Homo sapiens: one gene and its partners. The protein of the gene in region 2 interacts with the protein of the main gene of each other region in a pairwise test. Each region holds a gene or a part of one and is shown on either strand. Other genes may lie near its edges.

Evidence for each region.
Region 1: the proteins of DTNB (region 2) and CTBP2 interact in binary tests that used the Homo sapiens proteins (3 or more experiments, as listed by UniProt).
Region 3: the proteins of DTNB (region 2) and LURAP1 interact in binary tests that used the Homo sapiens proteins (3 or more experiments, as listed by UniProt).
Region 4: the proteins of DTNB (region 2) and BEGAIN interact in binary tests that used the Homo sapiens proteins (3 or more experiments, as listed by UniProt).

What each region holds. Positions count from the first base shown.
Region 1 is NC_000010.11:124,996,548-125,003,573, forward strand, and holds part of CTBP2 (C-terminal-binding protein 2), read right to left. Parts: intron 6,946-7,026; coding exon 6,791-6,945; intron 6,558-6,790; coding exon 6,413-6,557; intron 4,948-6,412; exon of another isoform or gene 4,111-4,947; intron 3,905-4,110; exon of another isoform or gene 3,305-3,904; intron 1,624-3,304; coding exon 1,417-1,623; intron 1-1,416. UniProt on the Homo sapiens protein: Corepressor targeting diverse transcription regulators. Functions in brown adipose tissue (BAT) differentiation. Isoform 2 probably acts as a scaffold for specialized synapses.
Region 2 is NC_000002.12:25,670,560-25,678,134, reverse strand, and holds the start of DTNB (dystrobrevin beta), read left to right. Parts: upstream 1-4,557; 5' UTR 4,558-4,749; intron 4,750-7,575.
Region 3 is NC_000001.11:46,213,312-46,220,337, reverse strand, and holds part of LURAP1 (leucine rich adaptor protein 1), read right to left. Parts: intron 640-7,026; coding exon 118-639; 3' UTR 1-117. UniProt on the Homo sapiens protein: Acts as an activator of the canonical NF-kappa-B pathway and drive the production of pro-inflammatory cytokines. Promotes the antigen (Ag)-presenting and priming function of dendritic cells via the canonical NF-kappa-B pathway.
Region 4 is NC_000014.9:100,536,635-100,542,431, forward strand, and holds the end of BEGAIN (brain-enriched guanylate kinase-associated protein), read right to left. Parts: exon of another isoform or gene 3,946-5,797; coding exon 3,862-3,945; exon of another isoform or gene 3,496-3,861; intron 2,986-3,495; exon of another isoform or gene 2,682-2,985; coding exon 1,335-2,681; 3' UTR 513-1,334; downstream 1-512. UniProt on the Homo sapiens protein: May sustain the structure of the postsynaptic density (PSD).

The DNA of each region.
Region 1 (7,026 bases), on a different chromosome or scaffold from region 2:
CTCTATACACCGAGAGGGTTTTTAAAGTTGAATGACAAGGGCACAGCTACAGGAACGACCCCAGGAAGAAGTCCCGTGACGGCTGGAGTCAGAAGCCCCTGAAACAAGCACCTCCCCAGTGAGGCCCCACCGTGTACCCAGGGTGCTCATGACCACCCCCAGGCTCTGCAGCCTGGCCAGAGACCACCGAGGCCCCAGGAGGGGCTTCAGAGATGGAGATGAAGCTGCATCTCCGAGCCATGAGGCCCAGTGGGGCCCGGACAGAGGGAGCCTGGTGTTCACACACCACATCTGTTTTCCAACAAAGTCAAAACACGGTGGGTCCTTTCAGAAGATCCCCAGCACCCGACACTTCAACTCAGACTCCAGGCGTCGGGCGAGGCCAGACCCAGGAGATCACAGCCTGTAGCGGGGACAGAAAGGTGTGCACTCCTGGAAGCGTCCAGCAACTTCTCTCTTGTTCAAGTGGCACCCCAGGTCCAGAGCGGGGCTTGTGGGGAGAGGAGCACGGGGGCTTCGTCCTCGGAGGCGCGGAGCTCCAAGCAAGGGCTGAGCAGCAGCTGGGAGTCTCCCGGAGGCCAGAACATTACTGGCCCCGTGTGCACATGCGCCTTCTTGGAGTCCCAAAAGGCAGATACCACGTATCCCACCAAATATCTACTTACAGATTGGGAAATTGAGGCAAAAAGCTCAGGTAATTCCCACAAGGCCACAGAGCTGGTAAGCGGTGGGGTTGAGATTCAGTGGCAATGGGCCGAGGTCTCCTGGGTGTGGTGTGGACCCTGATGGTGAGCAGGGTGGGGACCTCCTCGAGCCCCCATGGAATCAGGCTGCTTACCATCACCTTCTCCGTGGCACCGGCCCCTACCACCCTGCTGAAGACCCTCCTGGGCCTCTCCTCACGTCTCCTTTTCCTGCCCCTCTCTCAGGAGAGCTTTCCAAGCTGATGGCCTGACTGTGCCACCCCAACCTGGCATTTGAAGGCCTTCAGGAGTGAGGCCATGTCCATAACCCGCGTCTCCACTGAACCCTACGCCAGCCCCTACACGAGCCCCAAGCCTGGCTGCTGCTTTACGACACACCTCCATACAGCCCCTGCCCTTCACCCCTGCCCAGGGAAATTTACTGGGCACAGCGCCTTGCCCGCTGCCCCACAGCAAAGAATGCTGTCCTGCCAGACACTACAGACAGCAGTGGACACGCATTCTTCCAGAACCAGCCCAGATCCTGCCTCTAGGGTGAGTTGCCTGATGGGTCTTGACTCCGATCTCCTACCCCGTGCAACACGGGGAGGGTGCTGGCCCTGCCTGCCCTGGCTCCTCAAGAGCAGGCTGGGGTTGCCTTTCCCGAGGGGTCCCCACTACACCAGCCCCAGTGTCGGAGGGGTTGGGGGTCAGCGCAGAGGGTGGCACGTACCAAAGCCAATGAGGCCCAGCGTCTCCCCACGGATGCGGGCCGCTCCCGAGGCCACCTCGCGGATCTGCTCCACGCTCTGAACCCGCGTGCCTTCCCGCAGTGCCTGGTACAGCCACGTGTTCCTCCGGTACAGGTTGAGGATGTGGCAGATGGTAGAGTCCGCTGTCTCTTCCACGGCTGCAGACGGGATGTTGCACACGGCAATTCCTGAAAGGGATGAGGCCAAGGCCGGAGATGAGAAAACCTCAAGATCAGTGGGGAAGCCCCAGGGCTCCCAGCCCGCCCTCCTGAGACTCGGTTGTTGGCACCGGGGGAGGCCCACCTTATCGTCTAGCAGACGCGGGGCTGGGCACGTGGGCGGTAGGCCCTCTGGCTCTGATGCATGGGAAGCTCTAGCCCCAACATCTACCCCTCCCTCCCAAGGAGGACTTTTGCTCCAGGACGTGGCTCATGACCAACCCAACTCCTATGGCTGATTTTGGGCCTGACTGGCTTCCTCCTGGGCTTGCACTGAGTCCCAAGAAAGGACCCGGAGTGGCAGGAAGCCAGTGGGCCTCAGACCAGACTCCTCCAAGTGGACCCCACTCAGCCTCAAACCCCTCAGGGTCTCCCTCATGGAGCTGGCAGGGTGACAAAGAATGGCTTTTGGTTTTAAGCTATGCTAACAGTTTGATGCAAAAAACATACGTTTTAAACATACTGGTTTTAAAAAAACACCTCCACCCCCACACGGATGCAAGGGCTGGCCCCGGGAACGGAACCGATGGCCGAAGCGTGTGCACAATCGCCCTGTGGTCATGTGCTCAGCACCCTGCTCTGCTGGGAAGAACTCAGAGCAGACAGGATGCCCTCCCTGCCCCGTGGAGCAGCCTTCAGGTCAGGGCCGAGGGTGGCTTGGGGTGAGCCCTCTGGCCCCACACGAGCTGCAGAGACCAGGGTCAAGTATCTCCCAGCACAAAGCAGCTGTGGCATGGAGAGTTAACCCAAGTCATAGGCAGAAAGGGCCCTGCCATTTACCCTCCTCAGCCAGAGGGTGTCTGGGGAAGAATGAATGACTGCCAGATACAACAGGGGTGCAAGTAGGCAGAGGGCCAGGCTGGGAACGGCCCCTCCCTACACCCGACAGGTGGAGATCCAGAGGCCTGCTTGCAGCAGAGACCAGAGGGGCCGAGCCAGGGGCGGGGCCCCAGAGGGTGGGCTCAGCAGCCAGCCTGTGGCTCCCAGTTGAGCTCTCTGAGGAGGGGTGTGGCTATCTGGGCATCACGTCAGCCCAAGTGAAATGGTTCCCTCCTAATCCCAGCTTTGGGACCCTTAGGAGAGTGTCTCTCCCAGCAAGGGGTGCCCAAGGCACTGGGACAGGGCCACCTTTAAGGCAGCCCAGGATTCCTCTATCTTAAGTCCTGAAGATTGGGGTGGGGACAGATTGGGGTGGGGACGGCAATCACCAAGGCAGCTTCTTCGGCTCTACTGGACAGGAAACAAGACCAGTGGGTGCCACAAACCCACTTTCTAGATGGCTGCGTGGCTGTCTCCCCACAAGGGCCACCCCTAGGTCTAGGGCCTTGAGAGTGACCCGCTTAGCAAGACACACAGCTCAGAGAAGGTGAAGCCACTGTGAGCAGGTCACCCACCCACCCAACGTGGCCACTGAGGGCTCCTCTGGGCCACCGACCCCTGCCAAGGGACCAGTGTGGTTGACGGTGACTGAGGCCGACCAACTTTCCCACGAGCTGGATGCCAGGAATCTTGCAGGAAACTGGCCTCATTCATTTGAAATAGCTCAGCAGAGAAGCTGGGGCTTGATCACATGCCATGTTATTATTAAGTCAGACAGACTGAGGCTGATGCCAGAGGTTCAAGAAAATCTTTGGCGGCTGGGACAATTTTCATTCCTCGGGCAGGCTAAAGCCCAGCAGGGAGGCCCCGCAGCAGAATCACCCTCAAGGACGCTGGCTCCGTGCTGCTGCCGGGGCTGGCTCGGCAGTGCTGCCTGGCGTCAACAGCAGCACCTCCTCCTAGGAGATGAGCTGATGCTGGCTGGGAGACCCCACAAGGCCACGTGTGTAAAGGCACCCGGGTGGGTGGGTGGCACAAAAAGGCAGGTTGAGGCAGGACATCTGGTCAGTCTTCTCACCGAACTTGGACATTCAGCTCCGTGGTTCCACTGCTCACCGGAGTGCAGAGTCCCAGGACGGGGAGATGGTGCAGGAGGAAGAGCTGCAGCCACTGCCTGGGATGGCAGAACCTTCCCACCCAGACCGCGGCGGCGCCACTGCCAGGAACCTCCATAACCCTCACCGCTCTCTCGGAGGGAGCATCTTCTTAGCTGTCCTCTATCGCTCTGTGGATGCAGCCTCCCTTCTGGATGAGTCAAGCTGATCCTTCAAGTGCCACACGATGGGTGGCTCTGATACTCGCAGGCTGGGCCTCCCAGCATCCACGGAGCCTGGAAAACGGCCCCAAAGAGGCAAGCTGCTTTTCTCTCACGGTCAGTGCCATCGTGCTTTAATCCCTTCATGACTGCCGCTGGCAAGGAAACCACATAAACCAGCTTGCTAGAGGCGGCGGGGGTGGGGAGGGGTGTAGGGCCCTCTCGAGGTCTTCCCGGCTCGTGGGGAGAAGTGCAGGTGAGCAGCTTCCTCAAGCCTTGCCCTGCTCTTGCCGTGAAGCGCTGACTCTCGCCTGTCATTCCAGGGCTGACAGCTCAGAGCCTTGCGATCCCAGAAGGTGTCACCAGAGGCCTAGTGTGCTGCCTCGTGCAACATGGAGGGCCTTGTTTTCTGGGCCTGCGAGGGACCCTCTTTCATCAGGAGAGGGCCTGCCTGCAGCCACCTGCCGCTCCCAGCCCTCAGCACAAAAGGCCCGTTGACCGCATGATGTGGGGAATATGCATTCGGAGACAAAGGACGTCTGGACAGAGGCTCATTTTCCGCCTCCAGAGTCTACATTCGAAAAGTGCCCTTTAAAAGGGCCCCGCAGATGTCTTCCAAGCGCCCTTATCAGATGGGACCAGGATCAATGAAAATCCACCACTCACAGCCCTTCTACATTTTCCAAAACCGCAGTCCCTGGTCCTGGTCGTCTTCTGTGGGTCTCAGAACTCAGGGAACACAACCTCCCATCTCGGCCCTCCCAGGCCCCCTGTCATTGAGGCCTTGGTGCCTTTCTGGCCCCACTGCCTGTGCGGGGCACTTCTAGAAATGGAGAAATAGGAAGTTCCACAGGCAAGGACCTCCCCTCTCTCCCTGGAAAGCAGCGTCTGGTCCAGCCGAGGAAGGGCAGGGTCAGCACCCGTATGGGCCTGGGAGCTGTGTGGTGAGGGGCCGACGTGCTGGAGAAGCAAGAGGTGCGGGGGACAAGGATTTGAGAGCCCCTGGCACATGAAGCTGTATTCTCCTCTGCTGTTGAAACTTGGGATTTCAGCTCTACCCAGAGCACAAAGGACATTTGTTTTCAAACAAAAATATCCTTGTTTGTGCCAGGGAAAGATGGAAAATTTTAGTTTATATTAAACACGCCTTTGAAGACTCACATCTTCTGGAGTGTCTTTGTTCCAACAGAGGGGCTCGGAAGGACGCCGTGGCTGGTAGCAAGTGAGGGGTGTGGGGAGGGTGAGGGGTGGATGTGTGAAGCTGCTGCTTCCAGGACCCTAAGGGGTGTGGAATCTGAGTGACTCTCTCTCCTTCCCTGGCCTTTTGCTTTGGGATTTGCCCGTGGGGCAGCCCCACCCCACTGCGTCCTGACCCCTGTGAGTGTACGGGCAGCTCCCTGCTCGCCCGGCTCCCCAGCCCTGCTCCTGACACCAAGACCCACCCAGTGCTTCCGGTACCTGGGTGCTGCCCCGACTGGCCGTGAAGGATTCAACTAAGATTCTGACCCATACACTCCATGCCCCAGGCTAAGGCTGTGGAGAGACAGCTGGAGCCCATGGGGGTGGCCTCCCTGAAAACGTGGCCGGTGGTGCCCGAGAGCAGGATTCTCAGATGTATGTAACACTCCGCTCACACACAGAGCCCATCTGACACCCAGCCCGTCCCGGAAGCACCGGGGCCCACTGGGGCCTTAGCCGATGGGAGAGAGGTGGGGAAATAGCGCCTGGGCTATTCCTGGAGCACAGGAAGAGCTGTTCCAAGGCCAGGCTGCTGCCTTGGAATTCATGGTGCCTCATGAATTTGGGGCACCTCAGCACTCGTAAGGCAGAGTACAGCCCCCACCCCCAAAATGCAGGGGTGGCGTGTTCCAAACACAGAGCAAGCACAGTGCCCACCTGGCCCTCTCCCGAGGACGCTCGATGCCAGCGGTCTGCTTCTTGTGCCTCTGCACTCAGCACTCACGAGCTCACACGGGGTGCTGGGCAGAGGCCCCCCTCAACATGCACCCCCAGCCGCAAGTGCATGGGGCCGATAAGCAGCTTTGAAGCCCCCAACTCTGGGTTCCCGCCTGCTGCCTCTGCTTTTCTTCGGAAGCCTCTGTCATCAACTGTGTTGGGCAGGGGCCCACCTGCTTTGGTGCTGACCTGGACCACATGCTGCTAAGGCTGCCCTCCCAGAACGGGAGGCCCAGGTTCCCATGTGGACAGGGGCCTAGAGCTGTGCACACGGCAGGGGCAGTTTAGGGGACACACACGGCAGGGGTCATTTAGGGGACGCACCCAGCAGGGGTGGTTTAGAGGACATGTGGCCAGTCGCATTCTCCCCTCTGGAGGCGGCACTGGGTGTCTCCAAATTGAGCCTGTGCCAGCTGGGTGTTGCTCTGAGGGCAGAGATGCCTCACAGCCCCGCAGACCCCACACAAGGGCCAGCAGGGACTATCCTACCTGTGTCATGTGAAGGCAGGGCCGCAAGGTGCTCCACAGCCCGGCCTGGAGGCAGCCACCTTGCTACAGCCAGAAGCGGCTGCTCCGTGGTCCCAGTTCCAGCTGCTTCTCCAAGCCCACCCGAGCAGGGCCCACAGAGCTCCGGACAACTCCAGGCAGCCAGCGCTGCCTCGCACTCACCGAGCTCGCCGGCAGCCTTGATGTCCACGTTGTCATAGCCACTGCCTATCCGCACGATCACTCTCAGGGCCTTGAACTTCTCCAGGTCCTCCCTGGTGAGGGTGATGGTGTGGTACATCATGGCGCCCACGGCTTCGTTTAGAACCTGCGTGGGAACAGAGCACAGGGTCGGAGCCCCACCCCGTGCAGCCCACCGGCACCACTTGGCCTGGCCCCCTGGCCCTATCACCCTTGAACCTGAGGCAGAGGAGTTCAGCAGGAAAGCAGGGAACAGGGGTTCTGGGGCCTGCCGGTGACTTGGGGCGATCTAATGGGGGGATGCTGGGGAGGAAACTGCCCAAGGTCAGTGCAGGCCCCGGCCGGGCAGGGTGGGCCCACCTTCTCGTGGATTTCCTGCGTCGACTGCGCGTCACAGAAGGCCACAGTGGCCAGGTCCTTCAGGATGGGCATCTCCACAGTGCAGTCGCGGCCGTCCAGCAGCGCCACCAGGGGGCGGGGGTGCAGGGGGCCGTTCATGATCTGGGGGCGGATACCTGCCAGGAGGGAAGGGGTGAGCACAGTGGGTGGGTGGCTGGGGCCACAGGGTGCGTGGAGGGGCAGCTCCCCACTCATCA
Region 2 (7,575 bases):
AATTTCACAGTCTTTGGAGTTAGGAATTTGGGTAGGGCTTGGCTGGATGATTCTTCTGTTCCCTGTGGCTTCAACTGAGGTCACTCAGTGGTATTCTGCTGATGTAGGGCTTTCATGACGATTTCACTCATACCAGCAAGAATCAGCTAGGTCCTCTCCTTCTCCATGTAGGACCTTTCTGGGGAGTTACATATTTTACATAGCAGCTTGGGGCTTTAAGAATAAGTGTTCTGGCCAGGCACGGTGGCTCACGCCTGTAATCTCAGCACCTTTGGAGGCTGAGGCGGGTGGCATGAGGTCAGGAGTTCAAGACCAGCCTGGCCAATATGGTGAAACCCCGTCTCTACTAAAAATACAAAAATTAGCCAGGTGTGGTGGTGGGTACCTGTAGTCCCAGCTACTCGGGAGGCGGAGGCAGGAGAATCGCTTGAAACCGGAAGGCAGAGGTTGCAGTGAGCAGAGATCGTGCCACTGCACTCCAGCCTGGGTGAAAGAGTGAAAGTCCATCTCAAAAAAAAAAAAAAAAAAAAAAAAAAAGTGTTCCCAAAGACCAAAGACCCAAACTCAAGTGGACACTTAAAGACTTTTTGTGAACTGGGATTAGAAATCCCAGAATATTGCATGTTCTATTGGCCGAGCAATTCAGTAAGGCCATCCTGGATGGAGAGGAATGATAAAAAAAAAAATTGGCAGCCACGTTTAAAGTCCCGCAGCCCAATTTTCTTTTCTTTCTTTTTTTTTTTTTTTGAGGCAGATTTTCGCTCTTGTTGCCCAAGCTGGAGTGCAATGGCGCAATATCGGCTCACTGCAACCTCCGCCTCCCGGGTTCAAGCGATTCTCCTGCCTCAGCCTCCCGAGTAGCTGGGATCACAGGCGTGCACCACCACACCCGGCTAATTTTGTGCATTTTTAGGAGAAACAGGGTTTCACCATGTTAGCCAGGCTGGTCTCGAACTCCTGACCTCAGGTGATCTGCCCACCTCAGCCTCCCAAAGTGCTGGGATTACAGGTTTGAGCCACCGCACCTGGCCTGCAGTCCAATTTTCTTACCCTTTTAAACAATTTGAACTTTGTACCTGCAGACCTTGAAGATTATTATTATTATCAGTTTAACACTGTAAATAGCATAGCTCTCAGAGTTCAGCCTCTGGCAATTTTCCCAGGTAAATGTAGGCCTTATAGGTTTATATCTTATTTTCAGAAAGATTCTTAGATTATAGCTTCGACATATGTAGCACCCCAGTGACACATATGTTGGATATTCTTTGCTTGTATTCAAATGACATTCCAAAAAGAGACAGAAACAAGCACAAAGGTGTGGAGCCAAGGGGAAGTGGAAACATTCCAGGAGTTTGTATGGTGTGTGTGGAGGAAGCAATAGACGATGGATTGGAGAGAATGGGCAAGGGCTAGATTAAGGGAAGTGCTAGACAGTGACACCAGGGGTGGTAAATTTTTGAAAGCTTTCTCTAATCTGCAGCATGGAAGATGGATTGGAAGCAGCAAGACTGGCAGGGAGACCACATAAAAAGCTGCTGCATGGCCAGGCGCAGTGGCTCACGCCTGTAATCCCAGTACTTTGGGAGGCCAAGGCAGGTGGGGATCACTTGAGGCCAGGAGTTTGAGACCAGGCTGGTCCACATGGTGAAACCCCGTCTCTAACTAAAAATATAAAAATTAGCCAGGCATGATGATGGGCATCTGTAATCCCAGCTACTCAGGAGGCTGAGGCAGGAGAATCGCGTGAACCTGGGAGGCGGAGGTTGCAGTGAGCCAAGATCGTGCCACTGCACTCCAGCCTGGGTGACAGAGCGAGACTCCGTCCCAGAACAAACAAACAAAGCTGCTGCATTAGTTTAGGGGAGGTGGGCTAAGAGGGAAAGATTCTAGTTATTTATTTATGAGGAAGCATCAATGGGACTTAGTGGTTGTTGGGTATGGAGTCAGGGCAGAGGGGTGGTGGGAGAAGAAGGAATCAAGAATGGCCCCCCAGTTTCTGAATTGGTCAACTGGGTGGACAGTAGTTTAGACATGTAGAACGTGGGGTACCTCTAGGACACCCAGGTGGAGAAGTCTGGCGGGCTTTTGTGAATAAGGAACCCAGATGAGTGGCCTGAGCTAGAGAGAGTGCACTTGGGAGTTGCTGATATGCGGTAGATAAAGAAGCGGAGTGGATGGAATGGTCCAGGGAGAATGTGTGGCGTGAGACCAGCTGAGGAGAGAATCTGTGAAACTGAGAAGTGGTCACAGGGGTTAAGACAGGAGTCATGCCATGACACCAAGGGAGTTTCAGAAAGAGTGGGCTACTCTGTTCAATGTCACTGAGAGTTCTAACAATATGAGGACTCAGAGATGGCTTGTGGTATTTAGGATCCAACAAGCCATTCATGACTGAGAGCAATGCAGTGATGTGGTGTGGACAGAAACTACATAGGTTTGAGGAGCTGAGGAGCTGCTGAGGAGGTAGAGATGAGGGTAGATGACTTTCAAGATATTTATGAAGGAAAACTCAGAGAGGGACTAGTAACTGAAGCAGAATCTAGAGGGACAGCGAAAGGGTTTCTTCCTTTTTCTTGAGGACAGGAAAAGCTTAAACATGAATAGATGATGAAGGAAAGAGACAAGTAAAGAGAAGTTGGTAATTTTGGAGTGAGAGGGGGAGAATGATTGAAAGGTGTTTGAAAAGTTTTCTGAGGATGTGGGAGGTGAAGAAATAGAGAACAGAGATGGAGAGATGCCAATACAGTGTCCTTGAAGTATTTAATTCCCTTATGGTTTAGGATTGTCTAGTCCACATATTGAAATTACCTTGGTTTCAATCAATAAACCGAACATATCAAGCGATATTTACACATTTATTTTATATTATTTACACATCTTTTCTCCAAAGAACAGAATCAATGTTTTACCCCTCTCAATGCCTTCCACATAGGGGGTGCTCAAAAAGGGCAAATAAAGAAGCTAGAGGTCTCTTACCTGTATTCTGAGTATCTTAATATGTACAAAACATAGCCAAGACCGTGCCTACAAGAGATAAGTCTCCTCAAGCATGAAAATATTCACACACTTCATATATGTAAGGTAAAAGGTAAAATGTCCATCTTTATTTATTTATTTTGAGACGGAGTCTCACTCTCTTGCCCAGACTTGGAGTACAGTGGTGCGATCTCGACTCACTGCAACCTCTGCCTCCTAGGTTCAGGCGATTCTCCTGCCTCAGCCTCCCAAGTAGCTGGGATTACGGCGTACACCACCACGCCCGGCTAATTTTTGTATTTTTAGTAGAGACAGAGTTTCGCCATGTTGGCCAGGCTGGTCTCGAACCCCTGACCTCAAGTGATCCGTCTGCCTCAGCCTCCCAAAGTGCTGGGATTACAGGCGTGAGCCTCCGCGGCAGGCCAGAAAATGCTCATCTTTTGAGGAACCTATTTGTTCCCATTTAACAAAGTTGGTTATCAGCATTTCCTTCACCATAGGAGTTTAAAAATAAAAAGAGGAGAGGAGGAGGAAGAGGGTGTTCTAAAGGCAGGCAGGCAGGCAGGCAGGCAGCAGCAGGAGGTGGCACGATCTGCCTTACCGTAAGGTGCCAAAAAGCAGTGAAAACCATACTCCCAGCATGCAGGCCTGGGGTCGCTTAGCTCTGGAGCTTACAGCCTTCATCATTGACCAATAGCCCCCAAAGGACGTTGCTGTTTTGAGTCTTAAGTAACGTTGAGAATGACCATTTGAACCATTCAAAAAGTCCTTGCTATATTCTAATTTGGCACCATCTCCTGTATTTCACAGTTTGGAAAGAATTCTATAAAAGATGGATAACAGTAAAACACAAAAAAGCTGGTGCTGAGATGGTAAACCTGGCTGCCCCGGCTCCTTTGCCCAAACTGTTTTCCCAGCCCTAATGTCCTCCCTTTTTCCTCCTAGGACTTCTTTTTCTTCCTTCGAGGTTGACCATAAATGCCGCCTCTAGCCCTCTGCGGCGTCCAAGCAGAAGTCGTCTCTAGCTTCTGTGCCAGCATCGCACCGTGGCTTGGCTCTGCACGGGTCATCGGACTTGGTTGTGTACATGGCTGTTTTCCCCGCTAAGTTTGGGGCGCCTCGAGCCCAGGCGCCGTGACCGTGATCGTGCGCCCACAGGCACCTGGTGCAGCGCGGGGCGCACGCCGCGGCTGGGCTAGCTTGCGGAGTTCACGGGGGTCACTCGGGCACAGGCTTGTGACCCAGGCGCGGAGAATGATTCACGGGGTGGCTCTTTGCATTCTTTGTCGGGTAGTCACGTCGGGCCGGGCACCCCGCCGACGGATACCTGCGGATGGAAAGACACCCGGCCCGACGCCAGCGAGCGGGAGAAGCCTGGATGGAGCCAGCTTCCCGCCTGCCCGGAACCCGCCGGCGACCGGTGGGCGGGGCGCGGCCGCGGGGGCGGGGTGGAGGGGGGTTGCTCGGCCGCTCCCGCCCCCTCCCCGCGCGCGGAAGCCACGCCCCCGGCCGCGCGCTCGCGCTGGGCGCGCGCCCGCCCATCCGCCCTCCGCCCTCCGCCCTCGCGCCCTCGCGCCGGGGGCGGGCGCTGCGCGTGCCGGGCGGAGAAGCGGCGCGAGCCGGGCGCTGCGAACGTTCGCCGCGGGGGTGGCTCCGGGGCCTGAGTAGGCGCTGCCGCTGCCTCAGCCGAGGGGGCTGGGCCGGAGCGTGCGGAGGAGTGAGGCCGCAGGAGACCTTCCCGACGACCCCTGCTCCGGCGGGGAAGTGAGCAAGGTGGGGGTCTGCGGCCGCCGCCGGGGCTGTGGGGAGACGAGCTGGGCTGGAGCCTCGCGCCCGCGAGGTGCGGGACGGCAGCTCGCGCTGCGCCGGGACTGGGGACCCGGGAGCCTGCGGGTGCGGCGCTGCAGGAGTCGGGGAGGGCGCGGGGAGCCGGGGCCGCTGCACCGCGCGCGGCTGCGAGGTGGGACGGCGCGGCTAGCCCCGGAGGGACAGGCAGAGGGGATGCGGCGGATCCCGGGCCGGGAGGGGTATCGGGGTCCGGAACGCGCCGGGGCACGGGCGCGAGCGGGGGCCCGGCGCCGGGCTGATGCTGCCCGAGCCCGGCTCGCCTGGAGGCGGCTCTGCGTTAGGTGCTGAAGGGGCGAGTGAGGCAGGTCCTGGCAGAGGGCAGGTGAGGCGGGCAGGCCCTGGCAGAGGGAAGGGTATTTATTTCAGATCACCCCAAATCACTGTTTCCCGAGGCGCCTAATAGCGAACCTGTCCAGGAGGTCACCCTGGACAGGAAAGAAGTGTCCCGAGACGAGGATGCCGGTGACGAATACTTGCCCTTAAATTCCTGTGCCAGGCCTTGGGATTAGGAAGACCTTCCAGCTACCGTAGGTAGAGACCCGTAGTCAGCACTGGGGCCACGAAATAGTATGGAACACCGTCATGTTATTGAGGTGCTGACAGTGTGGCTGTGAAGATATGCACATGAAATACAAAGGAGCGTCGAATTTTATGTCGCATGCCCTATTTACTTTCGGTCTCTTTTGTCTTTTCCCAGTATTGGGAAATTGGAGCCATAAATTGCGTGGTTTTGGGGATAAAGCAGAAAGGTCAAAAGAAGCCTATGGGAGAAATTTGGGAGAGTTTTGAAGGCTCCTACGGGTAACATTTAAAGGGGGCTCTTAGATGGGGAAAAAAGACGTTTGGAAAGAAAGGAAGTTTCCTTCCTTCCCATCTAGAAATAAGCTCCATGACTATTGACTGCTAAATCTTCAGAATGTTGCCTGGCTCACAGCGGTTGAGCCATAAGTGTCTATTGCATGAATGAATGGACAAGCAAGGTTTGGCCACATTTGCCATGGAGCAGTGTCAGTCACTCTAGTGTTAGGGAAGGTTGCTGGATTTCTCCTGTTCCACAAGTTCTCTCTCTCTGCCTCTTTTTTTTTTTTTTTTTTTTTTTTTTTTTTTGCTATGCGAGGCAACCCCGGTTCTGAGGTCTGGGCACGTTAAAGCAATGGCTAAGGCGGCGAGGTCTTGGTTTCTGTGGCCATGCTACCACTTTCCCATGTGTCTTTCATGTTGGCCTTCAAGAGCTTGCTCCTTGGCCTGTTGCTTGAGATCATCCCATTTTGTTCCTTCTCCCATTGGCTTTTTCTATTACTTGAGAAGGAAGAGGGTAGTGTTGTCTAGAGAACACTTTTTCATTTTGGTCCTGGTTCTTGGGTCTTAGACCTGTAGTGCGAGGCTGTTGGTGCCTCTGCTTTTCTGTAAGGGCTGGAATTCTACCTGTGCTCTGCCTTGGTTGAATCTCTGAACTCTGGAGCTCCAGGCTGCTGTTTCAGTAACCTGGGTTGCAGTGCCTGTTGGGTTACTTTGTCTGCCAAATTAAAACTTGACCTTTTATGAGTTCTCTAAGGATTTTTATCATGCATAAGTGGAATTGCCTTTGAAAGGGGTTGTGCAGTCAAGGTAGTGCTGGCAGAGTTTTTGGATGTCCACTATGCCCGAGAGACAAATTTCTACCTATGGTTAGAAAATTAGACTCAGAACCAAGAGAATTTCAACTTATTGTTTATTTTATGTCTTTATGTTACTCTCTCAGGGCCTTAGTTTCTTCGTGTGAAAAATAAGTAATAATCAAAATCTGGCATTGTATAGGAAGCCTTGAAGAAGTAAATTTATTTCTCCTGTTTCAGGGCTGTACAGCCAGCAGGTCTCTTGTTGAGAGGTGCCTAGGTTCTACAATATTGGGTGCCTTATTCCAGGCTCTCTCAATGATATTTTGTTTATGTATTTATTTTAAAACCAACTTTTTGACGTATAGTTGACAAAATAAAATGCACAGATTTCCCGTGTGCGGTTGGATGAGTTTTGGAAAAATGTGTACAGTAGTCCCCCCATTAGCCTCAGGGATATGTTCCAAGAGCACCAGTGGATGCCTGAAGCCACAGTTAATTCCAAACCCTATATAGACTGTTTTTTCCCTATACTTAAGTATCTATGATAAAGTTTTAACTTATAAATTAGTTGCCATGAGAGATTAATGACTTCTCTTAGGCATATGTTTGGCTTCTCTGTGGCATATCCCAATTGCCAGCATCACTACTCTTGCACTTTATTATTAAGTAAAACAGTGGTCACTTGAACACAAGCACTGTGATACCATGACAGTCAATCTGATCATTGAGACAGCTACTAAGTGAGTAACCAGAAGGTGGCTTATGCAGTGTGGATATGCTGGAGAAAGGGATAGTTCATATCCCAGGTGGGACAGAGTGGGATGGCACAAAATTTCGTCACGCTATTCAGAATGGTACACAACTTAAAACTTACAAATTGTTTATTTCTGAGGGGAGACTGCTGTATACTTTGTAACCACCATTCCAATCAAGAAATTTCCATCACCCCAGAATGTTCCCTTATGCTGGTTTGCAGTCCATTCTCTATCTTCCCTACTCCCTTTTATTGATTTCGAATTACACGAGCATCAGAGCTGTGGCACCTAGTTGTGTAGATTGTATTCTGCCCAGCTTTAGGGAGCACCATTCACATTGGAGTCCTTGTGCCTGGCAGCTGCTGGAGTTGTGTAGTGCACACTCTGTGTGACTGTGT
Region 3 (7,026 bases), on a different chromosome or scaffold from region 2:
GGTAACTGATTTCAGTGCAGCCTCTTCCTAGTCTCAGACTGAGGGAGAATCAATTTTGGGGGAGACCACATCTAATGGATAAAAGAGCCACAGGATTACAAAAGGGTGGAATAGTTGTTACAAGAAGGTCACATCATCCTGGCACTGCTCCCAGAACCAGTGGGCCTCGAAGCCCAGCTTGGCACTCTCATCCTCTGGTGACTCAGGTGGTCCACCTTGAAGCCTCTCCCCTGGGGGCTTCCACACAGCTCTCAAGCTCCCTAGCCTGGTGGCTGCCACATCCACCTCAGTCCTGGCCCTCTCTCCACCAGCTATAACTTTTGCCCAGTCCATCTCGGAACGTGGAGCCCCAGGTGGGCCCTGTTCATCCAGCTCGCTGGGGGCCACTGTGTCCAGGAAGCTGCCAATAGAGACACTGTCCAGCCGGTCGGTGGTGCTGGTGTCTGGCAGGCTGTCCCAGCTGCCTCGCCTTGAGCGGCCTGGGCTCCCGCCTGTCAGGCTATATTGACTGCTGGTGAGGCTGCTGCAATGACTGGTCAACGTCCCCCGCTCCTCCAACAGCCAGCGCACTGCCTCGATGCCCTCATTCAAGGTCACCAGCTGCTGCAGGATCTTCACATCGATGGCTCGCAGGTAAGCCTGGGGGAGTGGGAGAAGGAATTAGTCCCAGTTCTGGGGCATGGGTTTCCCCAGCGTTTCCACAGGCCACTACCTTGTGGTTCAGCCAACCATGTTTCACTTTAAGACGGATGGAATTATAACGGCTTGCAGTGTAGGCTTCAGAAGCAGACAGACTGCTGCCTAACATTTCAGCTCTACCACTGATTAGACATATCTTCTTTGAGCCTCAGTCTCTTTGTTTGTAAAACAGGATTAAATCACTTACCTCACAGGGTAGCTGTGAGGATTCTGAAATGCTGTCTATTAAGTACTCAGCACAGTGCCTAGCACAGAGGAAGGTCTCAGTAAATGTTAAGTATTAAAATCCAATCCTATTAAGCTTTGAACTTCATATTTAGGGTACTTCTTTTTTTTTTTTTTTGAAATGGAGTTTCGCTCTTGTTGTCCAGGATGGAGTGCAATGGCGCGATCTCAGCTCACCGCAACCTCCGCCTCCTGGGTTCAAGCGATTCTCCTGCCTCAGTCTCCCAATTAGCTGGGATTACAGGCGTGTACCACCACACCCAGCTAATTTTGTATTTTTAGTAGAGACAGGTTTCACCATGTTGGTCAGGCTGGTCTCAAACCCTTGACCTTAGGTGATCCGCCCACCTCAGCCTCCCAAAGTGCTGGAATTACAGGCATGAGCCACCATGCCCAGCCACAGGGTACTGACTATTGAGCCTGCCCATATTCACCAGAAAGACATAGAAACAAAGAATAGCAAGATAGGGTGTTAATCAGGAAGTAGATTGGGCCAAAAGGAGGCAGGAGCTGGGGAATAAAGAGAGCTAACCTGGTTCCCTAGTCTTTTCAGGGCATTGGTAGCAGCCACCGAGAGGGGAAAGGGTTGGCCAGAGCTTAGAAGGATCAGAATCCCACTGGCTGGGCATTCAGGCCTTCTTGCCTGTACACACCAGTCTACCTGTCTGTACTGGAAGTAAATTTGACTTACAGGGTAATCTCAAGCGTCCGTTCCAGCTCAGATGCACTGTTACCTTCCCTAAGCACAAGTCTGAACCTGTCTCTCCCTGCTCAAGAGCCTTTATAGGCATTGCACTGCTCTTAGAGAGTGCCGAATCCGAACATCTACAATAGCAGGGAACTCCGCCCTCCTCTTAGAGAATGAAATCTAAACATTTTAGCAACTGGCATTCAAAAGCCTGTAACATGTGGCTCTCGCCCATCTCTATAGTTTCGCCTCTAGCATTCTGCTCTGTGAACCCAAGGTGCTGCCACAAATGACTTTTTAAAACTAGTTTTATTTAGTTTTACTTTTATTATTATTTTTTGAGACAGGGTCTTGTTCTGTCACTCAGGCTAGAGTGCAGTGGCACAGTCATGGCTCACTACAGCCTCCATCTCCTGGTCTCAAGCGATTCTCTCACCTCAACCTCCCAAGGAGCTAAGACCACAGGCGTGCACCACACCTGGCTAATTTTATTTTTTGTACAGACAAGGTCTCACCTTGTTGCCCAGGTTGGTCTCAAACTCCTAGGCTCAAAGCAATTCTTCCAAAAGTGCTGGGATTACAGGTGTGAGCCACCACACCCAGCCCAGTTTTATTTCTAATCAAAGTAACAGATGCACAGAGATTAAAGAGGCAAACAGTTCCACAAGATTATGAACATGAACAGTTCTCCCATCCTGGTCCTACTTCCCAGAAACAACTATTATTATTTATTTAGTTGTTTATTTTGGTATTTACCTCCTAATCTCCATATTTATATTGCTATTTCTTGGTATTTAAATTTCAGGCATTTTCTATTGATTTCCCACACTATATAAGATTAGGGACTTAACTTTCTTTTTTCTTTTTTGAGACAGAGTTTCTCTCTTGTTGCCCAGGCTGGAGTGCAATGGCGCCATCTTAGCTCACTGCAACCTCCGCCTCCAGGGTTCAAGCGATTCTCTTGCCTCAGCCTGCTGAGTAGCTGGGATTACAAGTATCACCTACCACGCCTGGCTAATTTTTGTATTTTTAGTAGAGACAGGGCATCACCAGGTTAGCCAGGCTGGTCTCAAACTCCTGACCTCAAATAATCTGCCCACCTTGGACTTCCAAAGTGCCGGGATTACAAGGCGTGAACCACCACGCCCAGGCAGGATTTAACTTTCATCCCACTCCCCACTCCCCTGCCATACAGATACCCTTCCCATCTTCCATCCTCCTAATAGGCAATAAAATTACTCAGTGTTTACTTTATTAGGATTTGGAAATGCTCTTCACAGCTAAGCCATGTAGTTTACTATAGTTACTTTTTATTTCTTACAACATTTTATCCTTAGAATTATTATTATTATTATATTGCCTAGTTTGCTATGTAGTTATCAGCAAGTCAACCTCAAACACTCCCTCAATTCTCTGAATTTCCCTCTCCAGGCTTTTGAATGCATGACACGTTCTATCTATTCCATCTTCTGAGAGGCATCTCTTAAGGAGCCCTCTGCTCTGCTTCCATCTGTCCTTGCTGCACAATTGCCCTCCAGGGATCTCCCTCCATTATCATCTTGGTAATTCCTTTGCCTCTTTCCTTAGCTGGATCCCTCGTTTCTTAGATTCCATATCTTCTTTTTTCATTTACTCCTTCATTTGGGTGAATGGTTCTTTCCCTCTAGTAGCATCCTGAGAAAGTTGGCATAAGAGGTAAATTTATTGAAGCTTTGCATGTTTTAAAATGTTATTACACATCCATAAGATATAATGAAATCATGTCCTTTGCAGCAACATGTATGCAACTGGAGGCTATAATCCTAAGTGAATTAATGCAAGAGCAGAAAACCAAATACTGCATGTTCTAACTTATAAATGGGAGCTAAACATTGGGTATATGAACATAAAGATGGTAATGATAGACACTGGGGACTGTTGGAGGAGGGAGAGAGGTGGGGGCAAGGATTGAAAAATTATTTGTTGGGTACTATGCTCACTTCCTGGGTGATGGGTTCAACAGTATCCCAAATCTCAGAATCATGTGATATACCCATGTAACAAACCTGCGCAGGTACCCCCCTCCGAATCTAAAATAAAAGTTGGGCTGGGCATGGTGGCTCTTGCCTGTAATTCCAGCACTTGGAGAGGCCAAGAGAGGAGGATCACTTGAGTCTAGGAGTTTGAGATCAGCCTAGGTAACAGAGTGAGACACTGTCTCTACAAAAAATTTAAAAATTAGTCAGGTGTGGTGGTATGTGCCTGTAGACCCAGCTCCTCGGGAGGCTGAGGTGAGAGGATTGCTTGAGCCTGGGGGGTCAAGGCTGCAGTGATCCATGGTGGTGCCACTGCACCCAGCCTGGGTGACAGAATGAGATTTCTCTCAAATAAGATAAAATAGGGCCGAGCGTGGTGGCTCATGCCTGTAATCCCAGCACTTTGGGAGGCCGAGGCGGGTGGATCACGAGGTCAGGAGATAGAGACCATCCTGGCTAACACGGTGAAACCCCGTCTCTACTAAAAATACAAAAAATTAGCTGGGCGAGGTGGCGGGCGCCTGTAGTCTCAGCTACTCGGGAGGTTGAGGCAGGAGAATGGCGTGAACCTGGGGGGCGGAGCCTGCAGTGAGCCGAGATCGCGCCACTGCACTCCAGCCTGGGCAACAGCGAGACTCCGTCACAAAAAAAAAAAAAAAAAAAAAAAGATAAAATAAAAGTTGAAATTATTTTTAAAAAGTTATTAATCTTTCCTCACACTATTGATAGTTTGGCAGGATATAGAATTCCAGGTTGAAAATAATTCTTCCTCAGGGGTTAAGGCATTGTTCCATTGTCGTATTTTATTTTTGAGACAGGGTCTTACTCTATAGCCCAGGCTGGAGTGCAGTGGTGGCACAATCATGGTTGACTACAGCCTTGATCCCCTGAGCTCAAGCAACCCTCCTGCCTCAGCCTCCTAAGTAGCTGGACTACAGGCATGTACCTACACCTGGCTAATTTTTAAATTTTTTTTTGTAGATGGGGTCTCACTATGTTGCCCAGGCTGGTCTCAAACTCCTGAGCTCAAGGGATCTGCCCATCTTGGCCTCCCAGAGTGCTGGGATTAGAGGCATGTGCCATGGCACCCAGCCTCCATGTCTTTTAATTTTCAGTGTTAGCCTTTAAAAATCTAATGCCATTCCAATCCCTGATCCTTTGTATGTGACCCTTTTCCCATTCTTGCTGAAAGCTTTTAGGATCTTCTCTTTGTTCCCAGTGTTCTGTTTTTACAGCAATTTGCCATGGTGTGGGTTATTTTCATCTATTGAGTTAGCCACTTGATGGGCCTTTTCAATCTGGAAACTGACGTTCTTCAGTTCTGGGAGATTTTTTAAAATTATTTCTTTGATGATTATCCTCCAGTATTTTTCTGTTCTTTCTGGGAATCCTATTACTTGGACAGAGGGTGTCCTGAACTGATGATCCTCTATGTTTTTGTTTTTGTTTTTTTCACTCTTGCATCTCTTTTTTTTTTTTTTTTTTGAGACAGAGTTTTGTTGTGTCGCCCAGGCTAGAGTGCAATGGTGCGATCTTGGCTTACTGCAAGCTCCACCTCCCGGGTTCACGCCATTCTCCTGCCTCAGCCTCCCAAGCAGCTGGGACTACAGGTGCCCACCACCACACCCGGCTAATTTTTTGTATCTTTAGTACAGACAGGGTTTCACCATGTTAGCCAGGATGGTTTCAATCTCCTGACCTTGTGATCCACCTGCCTTGGCCTCTCAAAGTGCTGGGATTACAGGCGTGAGCCACAGCACCCAGTCACATCTATTTCTATACTTGCTCTAGTTTCTGAAATATTTCAACTTGATCAACTCCTCTTTTTTTTTTTTTTTTTTTTGAGATGGAGTCTCACTCTTGTCCCCCAGGCTGGAGTGCAATGGCGCACATCTTGGCTCACTGCAGCCTCTGCCTCTCGGGTTCAAGTGATTCTCATGACTCAGGCTCCCAAGTAACTGGAATTACAGGTGTCTGCCACCACATCTGGCTGATTTTTGTATTTTTAGTAGAGATGGGGTTTCACCATGTTGGTCAGGCTGCTATTGAACTCCTGACCTCAGGTGATCCACTGCCTTGGCCTCCCAAGTGCTGGGATTACAGGCATGAGCCACCACACCTGGCCTATTATCAACTCTTTGGTTTTTCTTTTTTCTTTTCCCCGCCATGATGTGTTTATTTCCAAGTGCTGTTTCTAGTTCTCTGAATGTTTACCTTTTTACACCTTCTTGTTTTTGTTCATGGCTACAGTATTATCTTTTATCTCTTTAAGGATATGCTTAATGATTTTTATAAGTTCGTATCTCTCTGTATTATCTCCATTTCATTCAAGTTGCTTTTTCTTTTCCTTTTTTTTTTTCTTTTTGAGACAGAATGTCATTCTGTCACCCAGGCTGGAGTGCAGTGGCACGATCTCGGCTCACTGCAACCTCTACCTCCCAGGTTCAAGCGATTCTCATGCCTCAACCTTCTGAATAGCTGGGATTACAGGTGCCCGCTACCACAACCAGCTAATTTTTGTATTTTCAGTAGGGATGGGGTTTCATCATGTTGGCCAGGCTGGTCTCAAATTCCTGACCTCAAGTGATCATCCAGCCTCGGCCTTCCAAAGTATTGGGATTACAGGCCTGAGCCACCATGCCCGGCCTCAAGTTGCTTTTTCCTATTTATTTAGGTCTATATAGAGGGTCAGATGTCTATCATCTTTAACTGCTGCTCACCCTTCAGAGTGGATCTCTACAATGACTAGAAACCGTGTATGTATGAAGCTTGCCAACTCTGAGCCTCACTACAGGATGATCTGATTGGGCTGTTTAATTGGAGGTCTAAAGTCTGTATCTTTTTTTTTTTTCTTGAGTTAATCATATTCCCCATATTATACCACTCTAGAGAGTATAACGTAAGCAAGGCTGTCAGTATCCTAGGAGCCAAGTAGGGGTAAAGGCTTGGAGAGGTATTTCATGATATTTAGTACTTTTTAAAGTTTTTGTAGAGACAAAGTCTCGCTACGTTGTCCAGGCTGGAGTGCAGTGGCATGATCATAGCTCACTGTAGCCTCAAACTCCCAGGCTCAAACTCCTCACCTCAGCCTCCCAGAGTGCTGTGATTACAGGCGTAAGCCATTGTGCCTGGCCGTATTTAGTGTATTTTTATTTAGTCCCTCTTGTCCTCAACTATGCTCAGTGTCTTTTAATCTAGAGACCTTCTGTTCTATTCTCCATATATAAAGTCATTTGTCACGTAACAATGGGGATATGCTTAGAGAAATACACCAGCAGGAGGTTTTACTGCCGTGCAAATATGACAGGGTAAATGCACAAACTAGATGACATTTTAAAAAATTTATATACTTTTTAAAATATGGAAAACAAAATGTCCCAGCACAATTACTGAATATCA
Region 4 (5,797 bases), on a different chromosome or scaffold from region 2:
CACACCTCAGGGAAACTGCAGAAAGCCAAAGTCAAAGAGAAAATCTTAAAGAGCCGGGGAAAAGAAAGCAATTTTTTTTTTCTAACCAATGGAGCGGCTCCGGGACTGACAGCCAGTTCCCAATACCAACAGGAAGACAGAGCAGAGCGGCAGCATCCCGTGTGCCCGGGAAAAGGCCACCTGCCGACATTCCATCCGTGGCCCCAGTACATCTCAAGGAGCAGAAGCCAAGTCTGAGACACGAGGATTAGGGGCCAGGAAATCGGTGGGGCAGCGCGCAGGAGAATGGGATGAAAGAGCTGTTGTCTCCAGTGGGTTGGGAGAAGCAGGAGAATCCACACCCTAGATAGGAACTTGGATGGCGGGGTGGGGACGGGGTGTTATGGGGATGGGGTGTGAAGTGGGGTTAAGGGGCCCAACTCGGCTGCAGAGAGCAAGGCTGGGGAGGGACACCAGGGACCCCAGGTTCCCGAGACCAAAAGGCAGGAGGAGGAGAAACAGCCCAACCCAGATTCTTTCCACCGGTGTCTTTTATTAATGAATGCAAAATACAGTACTAACTGGCAGGGCATGCATCAGAGACAACAAGAATGCAAGCTACAGAAACCAGGAATGGAGGGCCTCCTCATGTCTGAGGTAGAGTAAGACGGTGTCAGGGGGCGGACCCGGGGGCGGAGATGAGCACCGGCCGCACTGGGGCATCATCCCGGCCCACCCGGGACGATGGGCCGTGGGAGGGCTCAGGGCGGTGTGGTGGCCACACTGCGAAGAATGGATTTTTAAAACACTTCATAGCCCCGAATTTGTTTCAGCTCCCTCTTCGTGGACACAACTTCAGGGCTCCCTTGTCACTGGCTTGCGGGGGTGGTCTCCCCACTTGCAGAGTCTGGTCTCCACAGGACACCGTCCTTCCCTTCCCTTCCAAGGGGCAGGCCCCACGCACCCTCGCCCAAAAAATAAAGGAGCTTTGTGTTGAAAACGCCAAGGCAGCCGTCCAGGGAGCTGGAGGCCAAGTGCGTTAAGAAAGACCCTTTTTCTCTATAAAAATAGTTTCGCTTTATAAAAGGGGGGATGCTCCTCTCACATGGGGGAAGGACGCGTGAAAAACGCTCTAAGTGGAGTTCCACGGGCCGGGGCCGGGTGGACACCGTGGTGTGGGGGACCCTCCCCTCAGGCCTACAGGGCTGGGGAGGAGAGGAGGTGCGGGGAGGAACAGACTCCTCGTTGTTGGCCGGGGCAGGGGAACAGCGGGGGCTGGGGAGAGGTGAGGCCGGCCCTTCTGGGGCACGTGGGCTGGCGGGGAGCGAACCACGGCCAGGCCTGCACGCAGGCGCTCAGTTGAGCAAGGTTCCGTAGAGCTGGGCCTTGGTGAGGCTGTCCTTGCGGCTCAGCCCCGAGCCACCAGTCCGCGGAAAGGCCTGCTGGGGGCTGAGGCGGGCGGCAGGATGCATTTCCGGGGAGGCCTCCATGGAGCTCGGCTCCAAGGAGTCCCTGGAACCCTGCTCGGGCTCAGGGCTGCTGGCGGTCCCACACAGCTGCACCCCGAGCCTGTCCCCGTCCCCCCCCTCGCTGGGTGCATAGCCGGGCAGTGGGTCAGCCGAGCGGCCGGGACTGAGGCTCAGGTCGCCGCCCGCCCGCAGGAAGCAGGGCTCTGCCAGGTGGCCCTGGGAGAGGTCGTCCCCCTCGGAGAAGCTGTCGGCCTTGTAGCTGGCGTAGAGCGGGCTGGCGCGGCCGTCGGCCTTCTTGCCCGGGCTGCCCCCGGCCCCGCCGTAGTAGCGTTCAGAGAAGCTGCAGGGTGAGGCGCGGCCGGCAGCGCTCACGGGGTAGGAGTAGGCGCCGATGTCCTCCACGCTCAGGGGACGCCACTGGCCCCTCATGTCCTCCCCGGGGAGCCGGGCGGTCCCCGGCTTGGCCCGCAGGCTCCACAGGTTTGGGGGCATCAGGGCCTGCTGGGGACCCGGAGAGGCCGGGAAGCGGAAGGTCTCGGCCGGGTACGGTGACATGGTCCGCCCGAAGCCTGGGGCCACTTCGGCCTCCAGCGGGGCCGCCACCGCGGCCGTGGCCTTGGCAAAGCGAGGGCTGCCCTCGTAGGTGGTGGCGGGTGGCTTGCGGTCGAAGAGCTCGTCGCGGCTGTTCAGGTAGATGGCCTGCTGCGACGCGGTCAGCGTGCTGGCCTGCGCGTGCTCCTTCTCCTCCGACGTGGCGCTGAAGCTGGAGTAGGAGCTGGACGTGGGCAGTGAGCCTGCGTAGCTGGGGAAGGCCTCATGCTGGAAGCCCGCCGGGAAGGCCGCCGCCTCGGCCTCCTCCTCCTCCTCGGCCGCGCTGTCAGTGGAGTTCTGGGCCCGCAGGAAGCCCACGTCGGTCACGGGCGCGTCCACGCTAGGCCGCCGGTCTCGCCGCCGCTCCTCCGGGCAGTAGAGGGCTGTGTCACTGCAGTAGATGTCTCCCTTGTAGGGGGGCCGCGGGCCTGGTTTCTCCACCCCGTCGCAGAAGGCCAGGTCGCGGGCGGAGGCATCGGACAGGCGGGAGGACAGGCTGGCGGGGTCCGGCTTCTCCAGCACCTTGGCAATGACGCAGGTGGGGACGCTGTCGGCGTAGGCCGGGTGGCAGAGCGGGGATGGCAGGCTGCAGCCGTGCTTCTCCATGTGCAGGCTCACGCGCTCCTGGAAATCCGAGGGCAGCTGGAACGGGTGCGAGGAGGGGGACGGCGGGTACAGGGTCACTGTTAGCATGGCAGCCCAGCCCTGGCCCTGAAGCTGAGGACTGATGTTAGCCATGACCGACAGGCAGACAGACGAACGGGGGCCTCCCGGCTTCTCAAATCACACCAGGGGGAGCCTGGATCCAGGACGCTGTACTGAACAAGCTCCCAGGGGTGTGGGTGCTGTGACTGCCTGGGGATCCTGGGTCACCTCTCCCCACCCCACTCTGATTGGGCCCAGGAGAGCCCAGAAGCTGCAGTCGCCTGGAGAAGCCGGAACCCAGGTCTGATTCAGGCCCCACTCAAGGCTCCACCCCCCGCCACCCCCACCCCACCCATTTTGTGCCCAGCGAGGGGTTGACTTGCTCTCCCAGGCCCGTGGGTTCTGTGGGTTCTACTGGGGGCATGACCCACTCCCCAGCCCCCCAGTCATGCTGCTGGAGCGCTCCTGAAGAAGACAGACTCAGATGCAACAAAGATTGAGGGCCAGGGCTGAGAGCGCCTGGTGCCATGTGGGGGTGTCCCGCTACTGTTTGATCTATTTTGTGAGTGTCTCAGGCATGGCCCAGGACCAGGGGAAAGGAACGCACAGGCCTGGCTGGGAGATTGCATGTGAGGGGAGGGTCGGGGGACGGGGTGCGCAGGGTGCGGCGACCATAGGCGGGCAGGGGTGGGCCTCTGGCCCATCTGCCCTTGGCATCAGACAGGCCTGGTTCTGGGTCCTGGCTCTGCTACCTGCCTGCCACGTGGCCTCAGCCACGCCCTCTTTCCTGAATGTTTTCTTTCTGAAATAGGCACTGCCGGTCATCGTGCCCAGCCACAGGCTCCTGCGAAGCTCCACAAAGGTCACTCTGCCGTGTCAGCGCTCAGTGGAAGCAAGGACCTGGAGCAGCCCCCCAAAGGAAACCGAGGGCAACCAGCAGCCGGGGTGGGCCAAAGGGACTCTGGTGAGGGCCAGGGGCTGCCCGGCTGCGTGAGGTGGGGTGCCTTTGGCGGCCCCTCCAATGTCATGACCCCACAGGAGCGAGGGGGACAGAGGAGGCTCAGGCTCAGCTGGCATCTTCCTCCTCAAAGATGGGAAATGGCTTTGGGGTAGCACTGGCACAAAAGGAGCCCGGTGGTCCCGGGGCGGGGTGGGCCTGGCTGCGGGGCCACGTTACCTCAGACACCTTGTGGACCCTGCCGTAGGTCTGGCTGCACTGCAGCAGCTGGGCCGCTAGATTGCAGTCCTTCCTATAGAGCTCCTAAAAGACAAGAGAAGGCGTTTGGCGCCATTCACCCCAGCCAAGGCCCCGCCGCCCTGACCAGCGCCAAGTGGCCAGCGGGGGCAGTGGTGTGCACAGGGCCTGCTGTGCGCTCAGCAGGACAAGGACCCACTGCTGGCTCCGGCCCTCTCTGGCCTCCACACTCTTGCCTGCAAAATGAGAGCCTCTTTCTGACCTGGGGCTGCCGGAGCATGGAGGGCCCTGCCGCTGCCCTAGCTGGTGCCCTTGAGCACTGCCAAGATGGGAACCTCCCACAAGGTGGGGGGCAGTGGTAGAAGAAGGAGCCCCAATGGCCCTGAGCTCCCCCAGGCTCGTAGAGCAGGCCTGGTCTCCCTGTCCCTGTCCCTCAGGCTCTCGGCGTCCTTCCAAAGATGACGGGGTGGGAGTGCCAGGCAGGAATGGGAGGCAGGATGAACCCCCAGCACCTTCCACCCCGCACTTCAGACTTGCTGCTCACAACCCTCTTCCCAGAGTGTGGTTTGGAAACAGTGTGGCTGCAGGGCTGGGCAGGGACTGGGCAGGTGTGTGACCTCAGGCCCAGGCGGGCGCTGGCTCAGCCTCCTGAGCTGAAAACAGATGCAAACAGTAGGACTCAAGGGGTGTGGCTTCGCCACTGAAAATCTCTGTTGCATGTGCCTGTGTTTGGGGCTTGCATTCCCGCCCCTCCGGGGTCCCCACTGCGAGGGCTCTGACAGCTAGCCCTGGGGTGGCCCGGAGGCCCAGTGACCCACCTGAGCTGCCCCATGGCTGCTCCTGGCAAGGGCTGGCCACAGTCCCAACCCAGCCAGCACCAGGCATCCTGCTGTCCAGGCAAGGCTGTCTCTGACACAGGCACCTTTCTGTCCCCCCACCACGGCCCTGGAGCCTCCCTCACTGAAGGCTGGTGCCCCCAACTTGGCCTACACGGTGGAGGGCGTCGGAGTCGCCAAACCCCTCTCAGTGCCTCCCTGGGCCTCCTAGGAACAGAACAGCACGGCTGCCTGAGAGCTGAGAACTGACCCCTTGTATGACCCCAGTCGACCGGCTGCCCCTGGCACCAGAGGGCTGCAGGCACTGCCCAGCCAGCCCAGGTCTGCCACTGAGCCCCACCAGCCACAGCCAGGAGTGGCTGCCACTGGGAAGCCGGTGCCATGCCCATAGCCCCTGGGGCACCTGGCTGAGTACCCAAGCCCCTGGGCTGTCCATGTCTGAGGTGGCCAGCTCTGGGACAGCTGGGAGCCTTTCCTGAGCAGCCGCAGCTGCTGGCTCGGGGAGGAAATGCTCACGGGACACTCTGGCAGAGCGAACAGGTGGAGGCAAGCACTCTGGCCACCCAGGGCCCGGGGCTGCTGGAGTCGGAGTCCCGAGGTTGAGTTCTGGCTCCGTCTGCGAGACACCACCTGGGTCACCTGGGAAACCACTCAAGCTGGCCATGCCTTAGTTTCCTCATGTGCACCAACCCTGCAGAGAGGGCCCCAGGACTAGTGTCCACTTAGGTAAGGGGCCTGGCCTTGTCACGTTAAGAAGCACCTCCTGTCCCGAGCCCATGTCCTCCTGTCCTCCTGTTAGAGCCACACTCCTTAGAAGGGTGGCCTGTGTCTGGAACCACCGCTCCACTCCACCACCGACCTCCAGTTCCCCAAATCCCAATGCCTCTCCTTGGCCCTCTGACCTGGTCTCTCAGCAGCTGGCAAGCCAGCCGGCCAGGGCATTGACTGCAGCCCCCTTCTCAAGTGGTTGTTGGGCCACCATACTCGCCTGGTGTCCCCCAGCCTACTGGCCACTCCCTCCCAGGCATCCTTGCTGGTCCCTACTCCGTCCTGGGGCCTCCCTGCTTCTCATCTGCATGCTG